Regions from separate parts of the Homo sapiens genome. Here region 2 is linked to region 1. The links come from fine-mapping of genetic effects on gene expression. A gene starts in region 1. The other region holds a variant in brackets. All regions are shown on one strand. Distances are between the middles of the regions. Region 1 holds the start of FYB1 (FYN binding protein 1). Region 2 overlaps FYB1 (FYN binding protein 1).

Region 1 (8,342 bases):
CAATGACAAGTGTCCTTATAAGATAGAGAAGAAGAGACAGCAGAAGAGGAGAGGGCCATTTTACAAGAGAGGTAGAGGTTTTAGTGATGCAACCACAAGCCATGGAATCCCTGGAACCACCAGAAGCTGGAAGAGGCCAGAAACGAATCCTCCCCTAGAGCCTCCAGAGGGAACATGGTTCTACTGACACCTTGAGTTTAGACTTCTGGCCTCCAAAACTGAGGGAGAATAGATTTCTGTTGTTGTAAGCTGCCTAGTTTGTGGTACTTTGTTACAGAAACCACAGGAAAATAATACACGCCCTTACAAAACTCCCAAATTAAACTTTTTTCGTGTGTGTGTATAATACGATTTTTAATATTGCATATATTTATATTAGCATATATTAGAAATCTCTAATATAAAAATAGTGGTATGCATGTTGTTAAAATTCTACCCGCAGCTCCCTCCTTTGTTCACTCTTTTGTTTATTTGTTTTTAAATTTTATTTTAAGTTCTTTCTGGGATACATGTGCGGGATGTGCAGGTTTGTTACACAGGTAAATGCATGCCATGGTGGCTTACTGCACCTCTCAACCCATCACCTAGGTATCAGGCCCCACATGCATTAGCTATTTATCATGATGCTCTCTCTCCCCCTGCCCTGCAACAGGCCCCAGTGTGTGTCGTTCCCCTCCCTGTGTTTGTGCTGGATTTCTATAAATATCCAACAGTCTATGTGGATGAAGTTTAGGAAGAAGGGAAGAAAGACTGTTTCATGATTATTTTTTGCTGCACCACCATTTGTTGCCATATTAGAGGTGACATCCCAGCTGGGATTATCCCTGGCTTGGAAAGACTGAGTTAGGCATTGGTCACAGGCAGCATGTGAATTTGGTGGCATTTCACCTGCACTTAGAAGCAAAGTCATCCACTGCTCTGACCAACTCACAAGGCGCAGGCTGCAGCAACGTGATTAACAAGGTTATGTATTGAATTTATATAGCTAAATGATTTTCCTGGTTTCTTATCTGTTTAGAGAGGCTGATTAGCAGAGGTAGAAAAACAAGACAACCACTGAGCTTTCCAAATTTATCAGAGAAACCCCAGACCAGCTTCTGATGGGGAAATATTCCTTGACTTCCAGAGCTTCCCACTGGATTTTCATTCCTGCCCAAAGACATTCTTGGTTTATTCCTAGTGACCAATAGAGAGCATTCCAACAATCACTTCTTATCAGTCAGCAACTATATAATAAACACCTGGGACATGCTTGGCCCTGGGCTTTGGTAAAAAGAAAGGAGACAAATGGGCCTTAAAGGTAGAACAATTTCAATTAGAAGCCTGTACAAGGTTTAGAACACAACGTTTGAGAAAGGAAAAAATCCTTAAACATTAGCGAACCAAGGTCCTTCATTTTACAAAAAAGAAACTGCGTAAGGGATCTGTCCAGGTTCACACAGTTGGGCTAAAATCTGGGTCTCTCCCTTGCTCATCCTCTGAGCTTTCCACTGCGCTATGCTGTCTGACCTGTGGGGTGCCAGCTTCTGCAGCAGCTTGCTCTTAAAAAACAGTCACAACAAGAACAGAGGGCAACCCCGATTGCCTTCTGGGCCAGGTGCTGTGCTAGGAGCTTTTCAGGGATCACCTCAAAACAGGTCAATGGAGACGTTACTGTTATCCCCATTTGACAGATAAAGAAACTGAGTCATGGAACCATTTAGGAACTCACCCAAGGCCCACAGCTGGTGCGTGGCAGAGACCACCTTCAAGCTCAGGATCTTGATTCTGGAGTCACAGTCTTAACCGCAACCCCTGGAACCACAGCCCAAACCCGCCAGCGAGCCACGGTTCACTCTCTTCACTTTCTTGTTTTTAGAAATGTTCCTGTAGAGCAGCCTCTAGTAACACCTCAGACAAATGAAATATCATTTCTACATCCCTGATCTCTCTCTCTTGTTAACGTATTGTGTAAATGGTGGAAAATGTGGTTTTTAAAGCACATTGAGGCTGGTAAAAGCTTCAAAGCCACCGCCTGCACTTACTCTTTAGACCACTAGATGTCAGTGTGATTGCTCTATGAAGCAGCCGTAACTTGGCAAGGTGCAGCATTGCACCAGAAATCAGCTGCTGCGAGCTTCCAAGCCTCTGGACTCCAGCAGAAGCTGGGGGGAATTTGAAGCCCAATGGTAGTAAACAAATAATGGACATGACAGTCAGGCAGTGTGGATTTCAACCTTTACAATAATTTCTCAAGGGAAATGGAAACCTTTTTAGCCTTTCCTTTTTGAAACGGATGGTCAACTTTTCCACGGGGTGCCTTAAGTGCACCATAACGCCTTTGATATTCAGGATCGCCTTTAATGGTACATCATAAAACATGTGGTTTTATTGGAAAGAGCACCCTTATCCTCCTCCCCCTCACCTATCACTTATGATTAATTTCTTAAGGTATCGGACTATTTGAAGTGTGTGTATCTCACATTGCATGGGGACGTTTTACTCTACCTAAAACCTCCGGTGGCATTCCCATAGCATGGGCAGAAAATCACAGCCACAACTTCACCCTTCCGGTGATAAGCCCATCTGTTTCCCACGCAGAATTATTTGTATTTAATGAAAAAATATTTAAAATGGTGAATATTAATTATTATTTTACATTAGTACTCAAAAAGTGTATATAGTTTTATCCCCTCAACAACTCCATGAGATGAGTTCTATTATTATCCCCATGTTTAGATGAGAAAACTGAGACACAGAGAGGTTAAGTGGCTCTCCCAAAGTCACACAGCTAATAGAAGGCAGAGTCAGAGGCCCATTTCTATTAATTACTTCCCTGCAAATCAAGTTAAATGGGGGGAAAAGACCTTGTGAATTTTTCAGAAGAATCAGCAATGTATACAAGACAGCCAAAGGCTCCGAGGAAAATTTGGAGTTGCTGGTTGCTTTGAAAGGCCTCCTTGGCTGATCTGCAGCTGTTTGTCATCATTTATCCAGTTTGCCAGGATTCCTTCTGAGAAGGCATAATTCATGGCAGTATAGTCCCTTTCTTTAGTCTATGTAGAAATCTCATGTGAATCCTCACCTCCTGCCAGGTTTGGAGGAAATTGAAAGTTACTCTTTCTCATCAAAAGGATGGACACATATTTGTTAGGAACCAGGATGAAATAAACCATCTGTGCCCAGCTCTGTTGGCAATAAAACCTTGTTTCTGGTTTCACTGCAAGACGTTATTTAACGCTAGTGGCACCAGAGGTTCCAACAAGAACACATGAGAGGCCTTATCCAGTTACGAAAGAGCAAGTGACAGACACGTTCCCGGCCACATTTTTATCTGCTTATCATCCTTTTGGCTACCATGAGGCTGAGTTTTAGTGTCTCCTGTTCATCTCTTTTGCTATTTTCCAACAGAACATGCGTTTCCTTCAGTTATTCAGCTAGCACAGTCTGTGCTGCCAGAATTTGGAAGTGGTGCTTTTTTCCTGCTATAAAAAATTACACATTTATTTGAAAGAAGAAACCTAGGCATAGCTGTTACCTGACTCCTGCAGAAGAAGGCGGAAGGATGGCCTCCTTTAGTGGATCTTCCTGGGCCAGGGTCTGGGCCCTACTCACTTCTAGCTGTCGCATCTGCTCTGCATGTGGAACTCAAGAACTGCGGAGCTTTCTGATGCCTGGCAGGGTTTTGTCCCGGTCAGTGGTTGAGTGAGCCACACCTCCCTCCCCTGACCAGGCAAACTTAGACAAGAAAAGTTCTATTATGCCCTCAGGATATTGAGTAATAAGGAGGAGAAAGGGGAACTTAAAAGTGTCTGTTCAGCCTGGATACTTCTGCTAACATTCCCACCAAGCATGTGATATTTAAAAGGGTAAAACCAAAACAAGATTCTCCTGCCTGCCACCATGTTTATTCAAGAGGAAGAAGCTGTAAGTTCTTTGGACCCATAATCTTTCCACACACCCAGGAGTGTCACCTGCAATGGGGGCCAAAGGGGGATGCTTACAATTAGAAAGGTCCACTGGAGCATGTGGAATATTTGGAAGCTAATTGCACCTGAGGTCAGGAGGTAAAGTGGTGTGCTTGACCATATCAACTGAAGAGTGGTCACTCATGTGTGGAAAGCCCACTAGACTCACTCTGTCGGCTCTCTGTTAGACTATTCTTGAGGCTGGAAGAAATGGAGTATTTAGATGATAATCCATGTGAAAAGACCACCAGTGGGGCTGAGTGTAGTGGGTCATGCCTGTAATCCCGGTACTTTGGAAGGCTGAGGCAGGAGGATTGCTTGAGACCAGGAGTTCAAGACCAGTCTTGACAACATGGTGAGACCCTGTCTCTACAAAAATAAAAAAAAAATTAGCCAAGTGTGATGGTGCATGCCTGTAGCCCCAGACATTTGGGAAGCTGAGGTGGGAGGATTTCTTGAGCACAGGAGTTCAAGGCTTCAGTGAGCTATGATTGCACCACCATTGCACTCCAGCCTGGGTAACAGAGCAAGATCCTGTCTGAAGGAAAAAAAAAAAAGAAGAAAGAAAGAAAGAAAAATAAAGAGAAGGAAAGAAAGAAAGAAACTCAAAAAAGAAAAGAGAAAAAAAGAAAAGAAAAGACAAGAAAAGAAAAGAAACCCCCCAAAACAGAGGCTACCATTGGGACTAAATGAGATTTTAACAAATTGTGATTGTGAAATTAACCTCCCCCACCTTCCTTCTACTCATTCATTCATAAACATCAAACACTTACTGTGTGGGTCAAGCACTGGCCAAGACTAGAAAGATGGAGAAGACAAGGATTTTCCACTCAGTGGCTTATAATCTTACAGACGTTATGCCAGAGATGGTCACTTTCCTCCCCGTATGATTTTCCCTTCTTATAGAGTAGTAGGGTCAGCAAACTATGGCCCGCATGCCAAATCTGGCCTGTGGAATGTTTTGTACAGACCTCAGGCTAAGAATTTACATTTTTTAAGAATTGTAAGAAAAGGGAGAAGAAGCAAAAGAAGACAATGATGGTAACAATGATGATGACAACAATGATGATGACATGGCTGAGACCGTATATGGCCTGAAATATTTACTATCTAGTCCTCTGCAGAAAAAGTTTGCCAAAAGTTTAGGATGCTTATTCTATCCTAAGAGATCTCTGGCTTTTTACCTGGCCCACAGCTACACAGGATAAGGCATTTTCTAGTCCCTCTTGACATTAGATTTGGCCATGTGGTTAAGTTTTAGTCAATGGGATCTATGCAGAAGGGATCTATGTAGCTTCTTGGTGTGTCCTAAAAGAGGGCCCCATCATGCTTTCCCCTCCCAGCTGGCTGGGATGCTGTGGGGGCCTGAGCTCTTCTGATCCAGTGATGACTAAGGTAATACTCTAGGCATGACAGAGCCAGGAGATAGAAGGACCTGGCCCCCAACACAGGAGACAACCCCATCTTCACTGGATTTTGCTAGATGGTTATAAAGAAGGGAACAGGAGGACAGACATTTAACTTTTAAAAATCAGTGTTATGTTGTGTCTCTTTTGCTGCAACCAAACATGTATTATAACCACTATAGAGATAGACACTGTATAACTAACCATGACACACTGTGATGAGTATTAAGCTCAAAGTATGAATAAAGGCATCTGGAAATACCCAGGAATATGTAATTCCTTCTGCATGGGGGCAGAAGAGTTGAGGAAGACTTTACCTAACATGGGACAGTTGATCTTGGGCCATGAAGGAAGCCTAACTGGAATTTGGGATTACTTGTTTTTCTTCTCCTCTCTGCCAACCTCTCTCAGATGGCCAAAACAAAATAAAATAATCCACTGGGTGAGGTGGCTCACGCCTATAATCCCAGCACTTTGGGAGGCCTAGGAGGGTAGGTCACCTGAGGTCAGGAGTTCGAGACTAGCTTGGCCAGCATGGTGAAACCCTGTTTCTACTAAAAAATCCAAAAATTAGCTGGGCGTGGTGGTGGTGCATACCTGTAATTCCAGCTACTCAGGAGGCTGAGGCAGGAGAATTGCTGGAACAAAGGAGGCGGAGGTTGCAGTGAGCTGAGATTGCACCATTGCACTCCAGCCCGGGCCAACAAGAGCAAGACTCTGTCTCAAAAATAAAATAAAATAAAATAAAGTAAAATAAAATAAAATAAAATAAAATGAAATAATCCTCCAAAAGCAAGCAACACGCCCTGTCTTCATGGAATGTACTGCCCCCTCTCCTTTTTCACCTGGCTAACTCCTGCTTATGCTCCAAAACCCAGTGTAGATATGATCTCCTTTTGAACTTTGTCCCACAAGACTGGGTAAGGCCTTCTGAGCTCTGGCGTCTTGTACTCTCTCTTAGTTGTTGGAGATATGTCTGTGTTTCTCACTAGATCATGAGTTCCTTAAGGGTTGGCGGTAACTGTGGCTTATTTGTCCTGGATTTCCAGCTTGTAGTACATTGCCAGGCATACAGAAGGCACTTTATAAACATTAATTAATGTATTAGAGGCCAAGGGCAGCTTCCTGGTTTGTGGGACTCTTGCTCTTTTTTAATGCATTTGTCCCACTAAAGGGAAGGTGAGCCCAGCAATTTATATCTCTCAGCCTCTGTGTCCTAAAAGTATATACATTTTTAAAAGTTTGCTTTCCAAAAAGGCAGAAAAGAAATGTACACATTTAGAAAGTTTTAGTTTAAAAAACTGAAAGTTTCATTTGTTATGAATGGTCTCTATGCTTAGTAGTGTCTGAAAGGTTTGAAGATTTAATAAAAACAACTAAAATGCTATGAGGTGAGTTTAGTAACATGATGGTATGTTTCCGAAATAAGCGGAAGTATAGATACTTGCTCAAATTTATCTTATTTTGAGCTTTTCTTATTATTACATAATAATAAACACCCATTTTTCTATTTTTATAAAATCTTTGCTCACAAAGGAAAATTTGTGCAGTAATATTATTTGATTACAACAAGATGATGATGCTGATAATTACATTTGATTCTCCCCTTGTCACTCTGTGTTATGTGTCTTATAATCAATAAAAGAGGGAGAGGAACAACAAACACTGAGGCCTGTTGGGGGAGGGCAATGGAGGGGAGAGCATCAGGAAAAATAGCTAATGCATGCCAGGCTTAATACCCAGGTGATGGGTTGATAAGTACAGCAAACCACCATGGCACACGTTAACCTATGTAACACACCTGCACATCCTGCACATGTACCCTGGAACTTAAAATAAAATAAAATAAAATTTAAAAATAAAAAATAAAAAAATAAAAGCAAAAGCATTGCTTTTCATGCAAACCTATTTTACTACATGCTTTGGCTACAGGCAACCAATTTTCTGAACTGGAGAATTAATGTAAGACTTTTAAGACACCGTATAGTAGTAGTATTTTCCCCTATCATTTAGAGGAAAATATAAAAATATGAGGAGCATATTTTCCTTTATGTATAGTCCTCCTTGAGATGGTGTTGACAGAAGGTGAAGTTGAAAAGAATTACTTGCATTATGTTTCTAAAGGAAACCAGTAATGTAATATTAAGTTATTATTTGAATATGAAGTTTTCATTATTTTTGTGGCTATTCACTAAAGGCCTTCATAAATTACAGGGAAACCTGAGCAATTAAATTTAAAAAAATCATTCAAATGCTTCTTAAATAAAGTTTTTGGTCTTAACATCTGCTACAGAATCAAGCTAACACCTCAGTGCTTCTGGATATTTATTAAATGTTTAGGGCTTCCATTCCCCCATGCAAGAGTAATTCTAAGCAAATGATGAATGTCTCAATGAGTAGCTCATTCTTTGTGGACGTAAAAACTAGGTTTCCACTTCTCTATCTGGTGCAGCTCTGTTGTGCAATACAAGGAGATAAAACCCTAGGTAAGAGAATTAGAGTGGGGGTGGGTGTAGTAGAGATGGAGAAGGTCAGCTTATTCTCAACTCACTACTCCCAGTATCAAATATCCATTTCAGATATAAGAATTTCTGTCTTTATACCCCAGCCCAAATTTTCTACTGTCCCTATCTCATCCCACACTCCCCTCTTCTCCAGGTGGAGAAACCCTATCCTGTGCTGTCTGCTCAGTATAATGATGACTTTGAGGTGTCAGCCTGTTCATGCCTATCACTTGTCAATGTGCTTGCTTCTCTGTCCTCTAAATTAAATACTGTACTTATTGTTGTACTTACTAGCAATTATATTTTTCCACAATTAAAAAAATGATGAAGTTAATATTCTCAAAGGAGTAAATAACACGAAACCGATGGCCATTCCAGCCATCTTTCAAGGAAAGGTGATCTGGTTCTGGTGGCCAAGCCAGCTCTGCTGTGCCAGATAAAAGCCTCCAGTGACTTACTCAGAAAACAAATCATGAATGTGTTTG
Region 2 (8,342 bases), 23 kb before region 1:
CATCCAGTGTTCTGTTCACCTCCTCCTCTAAGTGGATTGGCTGATTAAAGGCTTACACAATGATGGCCCTCAAGGCATTTGCAGGTTAGGAGAGGGCAGACTCTATCACAGTCCAGGCATCCAGACCTGGAACTTCCCCATACCCCACTGGGATCATGTCCACAAGACTCCTCAGAGTAGGAGACTTGGGGAGGGGTTAGAGGACACCTGAGTGTCCTTGACCAGTGAGCATGGTCCAGAGAGCATGGAACAAGGCTTGGGGTGGGCACTCAATGCATGTTATTAATAGTTCTGCCATCTTGCTGTCTGCCTTGTGAGGGAGCAAATCGATGATCTTTTTGGAAATGTTGATCCTTAGACTATAATTTAAGTATTTAGTTGGTATTTAAAAATGAGGATGGGAAATTTCAGAGTGTCCCTCCTCCAATTCCCAAGTTAAAAATACTAAAAAAGAAAATAAGTCAAGGCAAACATTATCTAAAACTCACTAGCGGTCACCTCACAAGAAAGGGAAGATAACATCATGCATAAACTTCAAAAAGTCATGGCTAAGGGAAGAAATAGAAGGTTCTGGTGCCACCGGAGGAGAGCTAACCTTCCCACCTGTTCTCTACATCCAGAAGCAATACTGGGGGAAGACAGTGGTTCTAGACAAGCCTGTGAATTCTCTCTAATACACTCCAGGTTGGAGAAGCAAACTGTAAGGTGAGTGAGCAGCCTGGGAAGGTCAAGGAAAATCCTTCAGCATAAAAGTCCTAAATACCACAACAGGATCACACGAGAGGCAGAAGGGGGATGAGCTGCCAGGGCTGGCCCTGCCCTGGTACAGGGCACTGAATGAGATCTCAGAAAATGGAACGGAATCTGGGTCCCCAGTAAGGACTACCCTGGAGACGAGCACAGCTAACATTTATGCCACAGAAGAGTGGATTCAAAGTCACACTCAGAACTCAAATCGCAATTCTGAGGGGAAGGCAAATTTATCACACTGGATTAGAACTTGCAGATGCACTTGTCATCCATCAGCCAGATCAAAAGAACTAGTGTGACCCCTATTCATATAGCACAGTAAATTCCTGAGAGCCTGAGAGAATACTGATAAAATGATTGACACAGACATATCCTGGCTAAGATTCTTGACCTTAAGGACAAAGATTTCTTTGGAAATCCAGGCAGAAAAGCAAATCATTTTCAAAGAGGGAAATTTAGGTTGTCTGCATACTTCTCCACAGTAAATTTAAATGCCAGAATCTTGAAATAAAGACCATGTAGACTGCTTATAAAAATGAAACATTAGCTGGGTGCAGTGGCTCATGTCTGTAATCTCAGCACTTTGGGAAGCTGAGGCAGGAGGATTGTTTGAGGCCAGGAGTTTTAGACCATCTTGGACAACAAAGCAAGACTCTGTCTCTACAAAAAATTTAAAAAATACTAAAGCTGGACGTGGTAATATGTGCCTGTAGTCCCAGCTATTCGGGAGGCTGAAGTGGAGGGATTTGTGCCCAGGAGTTCAAGGCTGCAGTGAGCTGTGATTGTGCCACTGCAGTCCAGCCTGAGTGACAAAGCAAGACCCTGTCTCAAAAAATAAAAAAGAAAGACAGAAAAAGGAAGGAAGGAAGGAAAGAAGGAAGGAAGGAAGGGAGGATATCTTGCATTAAAAAAGACCAACGGATGCTGCTGGGATAGGAAACAAGAGGGAACAGTTTGTTTGCTGGCTTATCTTAGAAGAGCAGAAGAAAGAAGTTTCAAAGAGGGAAGATTAATAGGGGTAGTTCGTAAAATTTGACCAGGGACAGTGTGGTTAAGGGAAGAGAGTCTTTCTGAGGCATTTCGATTATGGGGTTAAACCCAGGTAAGCTGCCTGATTAATAGTAAGTGTGTTCCTCAGACACGTCAACATGCACCAGAAGGAAGAAGCCCTGGAGGTCTTCTGGACAACTGCTTTTTCAGGGATTAAGGAGGGTGGGTGGAATAAATTGGGCTCGGGCTGGAGTAAAAAGAAGAGTGACACCAGCCACAAAGTGTGCACCAGGTCCTGGGAGAACGAGCGTGCAGGGTGTGCTGAGGGCCTGGCTGTTACCCGAAGCTGAACCACGCCGTTGAGCAACTCCAAATTCCAGTCTGTGTATGAGAGAGCTTTGCCTCCAGTGATTCAGTGTCCTGTAATAGTCCAGTCTGTGAGCCGTTTCAGTCAAAGCATCCCGGGATCTCTTCTTTTTGTATCATGTTCTTACGTTCCCAGTGCACAGTGACATATTAATACTTGGAGAAATCTTGCTTTAAAGAATAGCACTTACCGCTACGTTTCTAAAATGTGAACATAGAATCCTTTTTCCCTGTGGTGGCTAGGAGCAACAATTTGGAAAATACTGCCACATGCTGATATAAAACAGTTTTCAATATGTAAATATCTAATAAGGTCATGTTAAGAGAGTACACATAAAAGGAGAATGGGGGGAAAAAGAAAGGTGATAGCTTTGGGGCCTGTGAAGGAAAATCTTACCCACTCCTGGAAACAAGTTACTTGCTGGTGAAAATAGCCCAGGCACCTTTTGGTTTCAAGTTGTTGTAGGCTGGATTAGTTAAATGATACATACACAGATGAGGAGGGGGCCATCAGTCTTTTGTTAATGCCCTCTGGGGCCCTCGCCTTACACCTGTTGCTGTCAAGGTGCTTAACTGATCATTCCTATAGCTAACATATGGAAAAAATCAGTCTTGGTCTCTCAGCAGTATTAAGAACAAGACTAGAAAAAAGGGTCAAACTGAATATTTCCCAGCAGGTTTTTACTAAATCATACATGCAAACCAATAGTCAGGCCAGGGATTCTTATGAACCCAAACTTTGGTGAGGCATTGTGTTGACACATGGGAAGAAGCCCTTTCAGAACTGGCTCAGGACCCAAAAGGAAGCAAAGGAAAGGTTAGTTCAGAGAATATTTTGATATTTTGGGTTTTTTTAAAAAAAACGTTTAGTCTTTTGTAACCTTAAATTGTTCTTAGGAAAAAAAAATTTAGCTTCATGATCAGAAAGCAACATGTTAGAGTCAAGCTTACAGTTTACAAGGAAGGGAGCTCAATAGATCTGCAAGATAGACCCTCTCTTATAACATTTATTTTGTGTCCAAGCTCCATTCAGTTGAGTACAAGTCTACTGGCAGGGGTTATCTATTGTGTTAAAACAATTGCTAAGCTATAGAGTATTAAAATCTAATACTGAACAAAATCTGGGAGTAAATAAATTCTAGTTAAATATAATTCTTTCTTTTTTTTTTTTTTTTTTTGAGATAGGGTTCGCTTTGTCACCCAGGCTGGAGTGCAGTGGTGCAATCTCGGCTCACTGCAACCTCCACCTCCTGGGTTCAAATGATTCTCCTGCCCCAGCCTCCTGAGTAGCTGGGAGGTGCGCACCACTATGCCTGGCTAATTTTTGTATTTTTGGGGTTTCGCCATGTTGGCCAGGCTGGTCTTGAACTCCTGATCTCAGGTGTTCAGCCCGCCTCGGCCTCCCAAAGTGCTGGGATTACAGGCATGAGCCACCGCACCCGGTCTGGTTAAATAGAATTCTGTGAAAGAATAAACTTGAGAAGCTAACAAAAATTTATATTACTTTTGTACTCCAAATGAGAGAATGGCAAGCAGACTGGCTTCTGTCTTCATGGAGCTTATAGTGGTATTTACAAAACAGACAACAAACAAAAGGCATGTTTCAACCAAAGGCCACAGAAAGGGAGAGGAATGAGGATTTTGGGAGTTTCATTTATGCTTGATTCATTGTCTTGTGATATTCTGTGTTTGAAGAGAGGCAGCCCAGCACGAGGAAGTGGAATGCGGGTGGGAACACAGTCTGCGGAATCAGAAAGACATGAGATTGACCCCAGCCTTGTTTAGTCATGTTATGCCTTTGGGCAAGTTACCTAACCTCTCTGAGCTTTAGTTTACTCATAGAATTCCTATTCATGGCTTGAGAGGAATAAACGGCATAATGTGTATGTGGTATATAGCAAGTCCTCAATAAATGATGAATATTTTTAACAGTTAATACATTGGGCAAAGATGATGAGATGGAGGGTATATCTGGGGAAGAGGTTTAAAGAATTGGATGAGAACCTGGAAAGGAAGAAATGAGGTAGAAGGCTATGAAAACAGTATTAGTTTAAAAGGCATATAGAGTTATTAGATGAATGTTTGTTAATTTGAACACTAGTATAATTACTTCTAACAAGAAAAAATAGTCTTTTTGGAGTCTCTGCATTCACTGAGCAAGGCATTTCATTTTGCTCCCGTCAATA[A/T]CTATTAAATCTTAGTGAATAAATATTTAGTAATAGAATCTCATTTTTTCTAAAGCATAGAATCTCTCTTCTTTCCCATTTTATTACAAGCAAATAAATAATTTTCTAATTATACCATGCAGCAAATAATTTATCTGGAAGCCCTGTTATATGAAAATTCATGCCTAGTCAGGTGTGTTTAGGGCATTTTTTGTTGGAGTTCATGTAAAAACTCCAATCTCAAAAAATTTTAGGGTCTGTAGCAGCACACTAAGAAGCATTTTCCCTGGAAGTTGCCAATCTAAGCAGCTGTGGCCAATCATAATCCAGAGCAAATCCATTGGCCACATTTATTTATTTCTTCCAGGTTGACAGGTAATGGGGAAAGCAAATGCACTCTGGAAACAATGACCTTCGAAAACTGCCTTTGATAATACCAGTGTCTTGGGATAACAGCCATCTATACTGGCTTTGCAGCCTCTCCACCTCTGCTTGGCTGAGTCAGATGCCTTCGCTTGGCTTCAGCCAGTAGGAGATGGCAAAATCTGGGGGCACTTGTGACCTAGTGCCACTTGGGTGCCGCCTACTGCTCTCTACCAGCCTTTGCTGTAGGGAAGGAGGCATCTGAGCGCAGAAATTTCATGGACTTCTGGTGGGAAACCTCTCTTCCAACAATCATTGTTTGACTCTGGCATCATAAATCACAAATACATTTCTATATTACAAACAGAAGTAAGTAAAATGCAGTTTCATGATTCCTAGAATAATATAGTATAATATAAAATGATTTATACTATAAGATGATCAGAATATCATGGGGCTGGTGATAAAATTTTAATGCTAATAAAAGTAATAAAATTATAGACAATGCTCACTTATTTTGATACTATTATATGTCAAATTCTGTATTAAGCACTTACAACGAATCTCATGTAGTGATTATAATGTGCTGGCGAAGTAGGTGGTATTATACTCGTTTTTTCAAATGAAGAAAGACATACACGGAAAGAGGTAAAGCGAAGGTCACATAGCTAGTACATTAGTCATGCTTAAACCCCAGGTCCACTGACTTTGAAGTCTACATTATATGGCAAACAACTCTCATGCTAGGCTCTGTACCATTAATAACATTACTAATAGATAACCTGGCAACTCTGCACATTGGTTTAAAATGGGTTCATTAAACTGCTGTATCTAATTCATGGGACATTATAAGTAATAAAAGACATAAACATTTTGAAAGTCCTTTGAAAAAAGTTAAAATCCCATGTACATATTAGTAATAATATGTATACATACACAGATGGTGCCCTATTTATGACAGTTCAAATTAATGATTACTTGACTTTATGATGGTACAAAAGCAATATGCATTCAGTAGAAACCATGGTACAGTATTCAATAAATTACATGAGATAGTCAACACTTTATTATAAAATAGGCTTTGTGTGAGATGATTTTGCCCAATTGTAGGCTAATGTAAGTGTTCAGAGCATGTTTAAGGTGGGCTAGGCTAAGCTATGACATTTGGTAGTTAGGTATATTAAACGTGTTTTCAGTTTATAATATTTCCAACTTAAGAATGTTTATAAGGATGTAACCCGATCACAAGTCAAGGAATATCTGCATATATATTCTATATAAATAAATAATACACTTATGCTTTAAACATAAACATGCAAACATACATACAGGGGCACGATGGTACATGGAGAAAGTATTAAACTTGCAATCTGAAGACTTGGATTTTAGCCTCAGATATATGATTTGGTTATGTCACATCTCAACACTCATTTGTGAAATGGGGGCGATAATTACACTTAATAAAGAATTTTCCCATCTAAAGACTGTACGTACAATATACCACATGTTTATGTATACGTATATGTATATTATTATTTAATTATTTAATAATTATTTATTTTCTACTTACATACTCCAGAATTATAAAAAATAGAATTTCAGAATTTTAAAAAATTTTGCTACAACAGAAATTTAATTCTTTTCTTTATATTGCTTATCCAGTTATATAAAATGAACATATACTTTCTAATTCTGATATATTTTAACCTTCCTAAATGAAATGGTAAATTACTTAGTATTTCTAGCATTGTTTAAGAAAAATAGCAGTGGCAGGATCAAGAGTCAGCAGACCTGACTTAAAAAACTTTGTGTTCAGAAAATAAATGCTTACTTTATGACACATACACGAGTTTATTTTCTGCAGTATTGTTGCAAAAGAACGCTTTTGGAAACAACACAAATTGTTAAATTGATTAAGCTTGTCACCCATTTACTGAAGTATTATGCAACTCTAGAGAATAATCAGTTACTCTTTATTAAAATGTGGAAAGATATACAGGATTTATTTATTTTAAAAATACAAGGATCAGAGCATTGCACATAATATTCTACTTCATGAGTAAAAAGCCGGGGTGGGGGGTAGTATTTATGTTCATATTTGCTTCTGTGAACATAAAGAAACTTCAGATGGACATATAAGAAATTAAGAAGAGTGGTTTCTATGGGGTAGGGGCTGGAAAGACCCAGAAAGTGGCAGACAAGGGTTAAAGGTAGCTTCACTGTACACCATTTTACACTTACTGCTTTTTCAGTCAGAATGTAATTTCTACTTAAAAGATAAAAGAATTCAAATGCTTTTTAAAAAGGTGAATGCTTTAAAGGGGTATTATTCAGAGTTTAAAGTTATGAATCAGATTGCTTAATCCAGATATCAAATGAGGTCAATCTAGATTAAGAGGGATTGAGTTTTGATTTGTGGAAGAGGTGAATGAATAGAGAACAGGATACATTTTGGAGCATAATACATCTCAAGGCATCAGATGTTGAGGGGGTTACACTGATGACAGGATTTAAAATGTGAACTGTGGCATGGGCTACTGACAGTGAGGAAGCATTCAGGAGCAGGGGAGGGTTGCAAAGGAGAGGAGAAGGAGAACAAGGATAAACTCCGTCTGCTCTGCAGTTCTGCCTGGGTCCCTTGTAGCTTTACTTCACTAAAAATCAGACCTTGTCAGGCCTTCAGAGTCAGAAAGAGGACTTGGTTAGCATTTGTGGCAACTCACTGAAAAGCGTGACACCGGGCAACATGTGTTACCACCATGCTCTGCCACCACCCACACTGGAGCGGGAGTGAAACAAAGATGGAAGAAAGTTCCCAGGGATTTCTGCCTAACATCAGAACTCCTTCCCTGGTGTGAAGTCACAGCCATAAAATGGAGGTCATAATACTAAATTTTTTATCCGAGGTGAAGAAATAAGAGAAATAAGGGACCTTTTAGAAAGTCTCACAAAAATAATAGTTCTGAATTATGACCTGGTAATGAAACAAGATGACAGATGAGGAGGAGATGCAATGTGAAACAAGGATGAACCTTTCTGGAAGACAGATGGTCATGGGATCATTCCAAACTTGCTTTCTGTGTGTTTGAATTAGCAGAGGACTTGATCACTAAGCTGTTTACGAACAAGGAGAATACTGAACTCAGGAAGATAACATATCGCAAGATGTTTCTACAGTGCAAAAACGAAAAACAACCTTTAGGCTTAGAATTGCTTTAACTAGACCATACTTCGGTAAGGAGAAAGATGCGACTACAAGTAGTGTGGTCACCTGTAGGCATCTTGTTTCCCCCTCACAATAAACAACAGTTGCACATCATTTACCTAAAATATTAATCATCTCAGGCATGTGTGAGCTTCTTACATGCAGTCACTCAGTACCACATCCAAGAGAATTGCAGTGATATCTCTGGTAGAAATTTAAACTATTTACCCGAAAGGAGAGTAAAGTACTCCTTTGTCTGGCTCATTTTCCTAACTATATATTACTTTATGAATCATAAAAGTTCAGAAAACTTTATACTGAGAAATGGAAAATAGCTAAAATGTGAAACACAAAGTACCATTTCATGAGTACTGCTCCTTTCTCATTTGAATACTGGGCTTAGGAAACATGATGAATTGTGTGGATATTTGCAGTCACTTAAAGGAGGGCTTGTCATCTCTGTACTATTGACATTATGGCCTGAATAATTCTTTGTTGTGGGA

What was found.
Region 2: its variant is fine-mapped to the expression of FYB1 in whole blood (INTERVAL, PIP 0.94).

What each region holds. Positions count from the first base shown.
Region 1 is chr5:39,215,926-39,224,267 of GRCh38, forward strand. It overlaps FYB1 (FYN binding protein 1), which reads right to left and starts at 3,638. Exons shown (of 19, transcript NM_001465.6): 1 at 3,518-3,638. RefSeq lists an enhancer at 4,714-5,215.
Region 2 is chr5:39,192,944-39,201,285 of GRCh38, forward strand. All of the region lies in intron 2 of FYB1 (FYN binding protein 1), which reads right to left. Among named protein-coding and RNA genes, the nearest start is that of FYB1, 22 kb to the right of the region's middle. RefSeq lists an enhancer at 1,604-1,898. The variant A/T (reference allele first, on the strand shown) is at 4,293.